Regions from separate parts of the Homo sapiens genome. Here region 2 is linked to region 1. Evidence: fine-mapped QTL for protein levels in blood plasma. A gene starts in region 1. The other region holds a variant in brackets. All regions are shown on one strand. Distances are between the middles of the regions.

Region 1 (2,918 bases):
GCTCCAGGCGAAGTGAGCGGAGTACTTGTTTGTCTCTGGCCTCCATTTCTCCCTGGAAAGAGCCAAAATCACAGCTCAAATTACAGACATGTTGATGTGGCCCTAAAGACAGTGTCACTGCAATGTAAGTTCCTTCAGGTCAAGCACATCTTTAAACCATAGCAGACTGCCAGGTCATGGTATTTAATTCACTGATTAAGCCAAGCCAGGTTAATTTTGAATGTTTCCTAACATAATGAACAACAATGAAGATGAATCATCTTTTCTGTTTCTGCTTTTCACACAATGGGGTCCCAGCTCAATTCCTCGTTCAATAAAGAAATTTGGAAAAAGAAAAAAAAAAAGTGGGTCAGAGACCCTTCTGAACAAGCAATTTTTATCTGAAGATTACAGAGCAGCACTAATTTTAACACGCTGGAGAAGAAATGGTGGTTTTATTTTCACATTGCCCTCATCAGACCTGCACCACCACCACCAAGGCAGAAACTGCCAAGGTGGACGCAGGTCCCCTTTTTTTGATCACAAGTATTTGCAAAACCTGATCAGTAATAGGAGTGCAGGACAGAAATCAGCAGGTTCAGAATTTAAGGCTCTTTTCGCTAAAAGTCCTCTACACGATCACCTTTAAGAAAATTGTTGTTTGTGCCCAGTCTACAATAAACTTTACACAATATACAGTCACAGACTCCATTCCTTCCCACTAAGAATTCCGAATCTCCAGCACAACACTGTCGTGGCCGCACATGCATGGGACATTTTATGGGATTTTTTTCTTTCAAAAAAAGCACACACCCCAGCACTGGTCAGTAGCCAGGCACGATTTGAAGGTGCAGTTCCACCACCCCTGCACCAGTGTGCTGTGGCTTGGTTGTGTGTAAGGCAGTGAAGGTTAAGTGACCGGGAAGGCAGGCAGGGATGACAGATGGGGCTTCAGACACACCCGGGCAGTACGACCACGGCTAGGCGACACCCGATCCCACACTCCCCCTCGCAACCCTGTAAAGTTCAGGAGGTGACAGGTGAGGAGGGGAGGTGTTCACGTTTGGCCGTGAGCGCCCATTGGGAACTATTTAAAAAGGCTCTGCTTCGGCCGCTGAAACCCTTGTATCAAACAGGAAGACTACGGGCGGTTTCTGCGGCAACTTGACCCGCTAAAGAGGGAGTGCTGGGAATGAACTAAAGAGCGGACCAAGGGGAGAGCGGGCCTCCGGCACTGCCGCAGCCACCCAGCCTTGGCCCGGATCGGAAATGCGGAGCAAGTTAGCGGGGCGGGGAAGCCCCCGCAGGGCCCAGGTCGCAGACGCTACAATGCAGGACTTTCAAAGAAAGATGGATTCCTGTTACTTACGTCTGCAACCACGTATCTTTGGGGCGGGGGAGAAAAACTGCAACCGGAATCCTGACTGTTAGGGAACCTGCCCCATAAGCACCATCTTTGTTAATGGCGAAAACCCTAAACAGGAAGTGTTGACACCATCTTTGTTGAGGGCAAGTACAGGAAGTGCTGTCGCCATTTTTATTGAGCGTTCAAGGGTCGGATCGAAGCTCTTCCCGCCATGCTTACTGTGGGTAAACAATTCAATAGCGGGGAGATGGACAACCGTAGTGTCACTTAAAGGGTATCTAAGTAATGGAGTAATTGAATCATTGCATTTTAACACAGTAACTCCATCAGGGCCTCGCACACAATTGACCTAACAGAGAGGCAGGTCAAAAGCCACCCTAGTAGAGAAGCCTTCTCTGACCTATCTGATTAAAACGGCAAGACAGCTGCGCTCATTTCCTGCACTCCCCATTAACCAGCTTTATTTTTTACGCATCACCATCTTATTAAAACTTTTCACTTATTCATTTGTTTATCCTTCTGCTTCCCTCCATTAAAATGCAAGGTCATTTATTTATATCAAGGGTTCCTGCCCGCAAAGAGTTTACAAATCTGTCAGTCAGGATTTCATTGCAGCACTCAGCTAGTTACTCCTAGTCAGAAAGGGATTCGTTAGGGGGAATTGGGGACATTCGAAATCATTGGAAAGGCTGGAGAAGGGCTGAGCTGAACATCCATGGATGACTACCTAGATAAGATTGCTGATTGTGGCTGCTGCCCACAATCAGGAAGATGGCGTCAGGAAGTTGCCATGCCTGGTCCCCAACCTCCTCTCAACACCGACAGAACAATTAACAGGACACTGGAACAGTGCTGCAAAAAACGGTGGTCTCCACGGCTGCATTTGCCAGCAGCAAGAAAACAGCACCTGCAAATCTTGCTTTGCTGCGTGCCATTGGTGAGACCAATCTGACATGCAGAATATTAGCAGCAAGGATGTCTAGAGCATGTAGTTGGTAGCTTTCCAGCTTGTGAAACACAAAAAGGTATAGTAAATGAGGGAAGGCCTGACACTTAAAGCCAATCTACTGCATCCACCACATTTTCAATGTGGAAAGCAAGAAAAAATGCATGACCCAAATACAGAGAAACACAGCAATGCCAAATTGGGTGTCCTTCCTCACATTCCTTTGTGAAGCGAGGCAGGCGATCAATAAATACATTCATTGATTCATTTTTAAATCAATTGGATGATACATACAGAAAGTCATATGCTTACTAAAAATCAGTTGACAGTACAGGGGGAAAAAACTCCTAAAATATTATTTCTGCAAAGGTTTTCACAGCCAAACCCTTTGGTGGAAAATGAAAATATCTTTGTTAAGCAAATCAATGGAGAACAGTTCTGAACCTCCCTCCTCAAAACCTTCTAAAAATTGTATTCAATTTACAGCATTACTATGCCAGTTACCATTTTACTACACCGTTAATGACAGTATTTTTACCTATGTGGCAAGTATTATTATTATTACAGTCATGCATTGCATAACAATATTTGGGTCAATGACAGACTGCATATATGATGGTGGTCAGA
Region 2 (2,918 bases), 170 kb before region 1:
AATGAGATCACATACAGGAAAAGCCGTGAAAACAGTAAAGCATTCTATAAACACCATGTGCTATTGATAAAAGGACAGAAGACTAAATCATACTCCTTAGGAGCACAACACTTCAGTCATTCTGGCTTCAATGGAAAGACCACACCCCCTCTCGTCCCCTGACTTAATGCTTTCAATAAACAGCACAGGATTTTCTCGAGCGATCTTTTAAAGATGAAGGGCTCGGGTATGCATGCTGGTCCTTGAACTGGTCTTTGCAGGGAGCTTTAGTGTCTTACAATATTTAATACAGACATCCTGCCTGAGCTATTTATCCTGACTTGGGAAAGTAACCATTTCACTGTTACTATTAATTCTGTTCCAAAAAGAAAAAAAAGACTATTGTAATTTTACACCCTTAATCTATGCAACACAGGAATGAGAAAGAAAAAAAAAAACCCAACACGGTACTTTCTCATGAGTGAGGCACATTATATATAGTAATTCGCATTTTATTATTTTATCATTATGAATAGTAAAGTCCACAGTTCAGTCCTCAGACAACATTCAGGTAAATGTTTTACATATGAGACACCTGCCTGTAATGTGATGACATGAGATATATATATGGATATATATATATATGGATATATATTTTGAACCACTGTGATTTACTAGTCTATTAAAATGCCATTACACATTTAAAAACTGAACAATTACAACAATGCAATCTTCAAGCAATTAAAAACAAAGAATTGTTGAGCCAACATGGGAGATCTGCTGAGTAATCTGGCCTTTCAAGTAATGTCTAGTGGAAACCCTGTTTTCTCCTTCCATCTGAAGATCATCAAAAATAAAAAACAAACCTACACAAAAAACCACCTGCTCTGAGTGAAAGTCAGGATTCAGCCCACATGACTCAGGGACACACTCCCCAGCGGTTGCTGGAGGCACCATCACTCCAACATGTGCAGGAGCAGCGAGGGGTCCACCTCCACAGCCCGCAGCCCGTTGTGCAGGCTCTGGAAGGTGGCCTGCTTCCCGAAGCGCTGCCGCCAACGGATGAAGGCCTCCACCACCTGCGACTGCACGTTGTGGGGGTGGTTGGCCTTACAGCGGTAGATATCCGTCTGGGACAGTCCCAGAGACA[G/A]CACCATGGGCTCCCACTCAGGGCCCAGCCTCTGGGCCAGCTGGTTAATCTGCCGGTCTGATGGGGAGCTGTTGAGGATGTGCGAGGGGATCCCAGTCAATCTGTCACCTGAGGAGGAAAAAGACACCCCGGTGAAATGAGCAAGGCAACAAACACATCATTTGGGGGCAGAAATGAGAATCGTGGGGAGAAGAAGGCAATGCTTCCAAATGGCAGAGCCAATTGGCTCTTGTCTTCTTCCTGGGGGCTGCTCTGTACAACGCCATGATTCAGGGCTTCAATGCTGTTAAGTATCTGTGAAAATGTTTTTACAGAAACTTTTTTTTTTTTTTTTTTTGAGACGGTGTTTCACTCTGTCACCCAGGCTGGAGAGCAATGGCATGATGTTGGCTCACTACAAACTCCACCTCCTGGGTTGAAGTGATTCTCCTGTTTCAGCCTCCCAAGTAGCTGGGATTACAGGCAACTGCCACCATGCCCAGCTAATTTTTGTATTTTTAGCAGAGACAGGGTTTCACCATGTTGGCCAGGCTGGTCTTGAACTCCTGACCTCAGGTGATCCACCTGCCTTGGCCTCCCAAAGTGCTAGGATTACAGGCGTGAGCCACAGCACCCTGCCTGTTACAGAAACTTTGAAAGCAACAAAATAAAAATAACTAGAAATCCCACCAGAAAAACTCATTGATAATAACTAGTCTATTTTCTTTGATATATAAAACACACATGAAGGGTTACCTCGTACATGCTGCTTTGTAACAGGCTTTTTTCACTTCTATCCCTTTTACTCAAGGCCAGGCAAGGCATTCTGGGGGAATTCAAGAATGGCTGCACAGACCCCAGCTCCCTCTGGCACTGTCTGTGGCCTTAGTGATGGGGCCTGTTCCAAGGCTGGGAATGCCCCTCCCTGCAGGAAAGGCACGTGCTAGAGGACAAAGGCTAAACCAAACAGCTACCCTCGCCGATGAGGTTGAACTTGAAATATTACCGAGAAAACGTGTAGCTGCTAACAGAAGCCAGAGCCAAGAGGGCTGCTGAGAACAAAATAAACCTAAGAGGCCATAGGGTAGCAGGAAGGGAAGAGAGCGGGGTTTGTTCATAGCAGAGGCCACAAGAGTGGAGTTACCGTTCTGGCAGAGCCCAGAAGAGGAACAGGAAGTATGAGACGGGGCAACGAGGAAATCTGACCTTACACTTCCTGAACTAGATTCTTATTTGCCTGAGGCCAGTCTGCTAAGAAGCATGACATTGAGTGAATGGTTATAAATGTGCCCAGCAAAACCAGTGAGCAGTGCCTTTGGTTATACAGAGGAGCTCCTAACTTCATTAGGGAAGGCCTTCCAGGGGAAGGAGGCTAAAGCTAAGCCCTGAACACTAGGAGGAGGAGCTGGGTGATGAAGGAGGAACAGGGCGTGGCGCATCTCGAGAAGAGAGAATTGCATGTGCAAAGGCCCAGAGGCAGGAGAATCGCAATGGAGGAAGTGAAAGGCACTCACAGCAGCCAAGTGCAGAGATTGAGACGGACTCCAAACATCCAAAGTCATTTGCTAGGTTCAGACATTTGTTTGACAGCACAGTACACTATACTCCCATCCATCAGCATCACAGGGATTCAGGTCAGTCTACTTCATGCTCATCAGTCCACTATTGTGTTTTGATTTATGATTCAATAAGAAGGCAAAGGCACCTTATTACAAGAGCTGATGTTTTCCACAGCCCATGTCTTTGGCCTCTGGGCAGCGGCCAGCACCTTAGAGATGAGTTGCAAAAATATTGTCAAGGGCTCTTTCTG

Which allele goes with the higher level. Alleles are on the strand shown, and positions count from the first base shown. The strength of an association depends on the size of the effect and on how common the allele is.
For the plasma level of the protein whose gene starts at base 1,446 in region 1, G is the high allele of the variant in region 2 and A is the other (weak association).

What was found. PIP is the posterior inclusion probability: the model's chance that the variant is causal. Protein levels are from antibody-based Olink assays in UK Biobank. Linkage for the fine-mapping came from a reference panel and not from the study's own genotypes, which makes the PIPs less certain.
Region 2: its variant is fine-mapped to the plasma level of the CRADD protein (UK Biobank, PIP above 0.99). The variant lies in the coding sequence of CRADD. If it changes the protein, the assay may bind it differently, which can mimic a change of level.

The regions. Positions count from the first base shown.
Region 1 is chr12:93,675,903-93,678,820 of GRCh38, reverse strand. CRADD (CARD and death domain containing adaptor protein) reads right to left here and starts at 1,446. Exons shown (of 3, transcript NM_003805.5): 1 at 1,349-1,446; 2 at 1-52. The coding sequence starts at 46. RefSeq lists enhancers at 575-1,389, 1,362-1,601, 1,390-2,205.
Region 2 is chr12:93,848,289-93,851,206 of GRCh38, reverse strand. It overlaps CRADD (CARD and death domain containing adaptor protein), which reads right to left. Exons shown (of 3, transcript NM_003805.5): 3 at 451-1,237. The coding sequence ends at 936. Among named protein-coding and RNA genes, the nearest start is that of CRADD-AS1, 110 kb to the right of the region's middle. RefSeq lists an enhancer at 2,148-2,247. The variant G/A (reference allele first, on the strand shown) is at 1,130.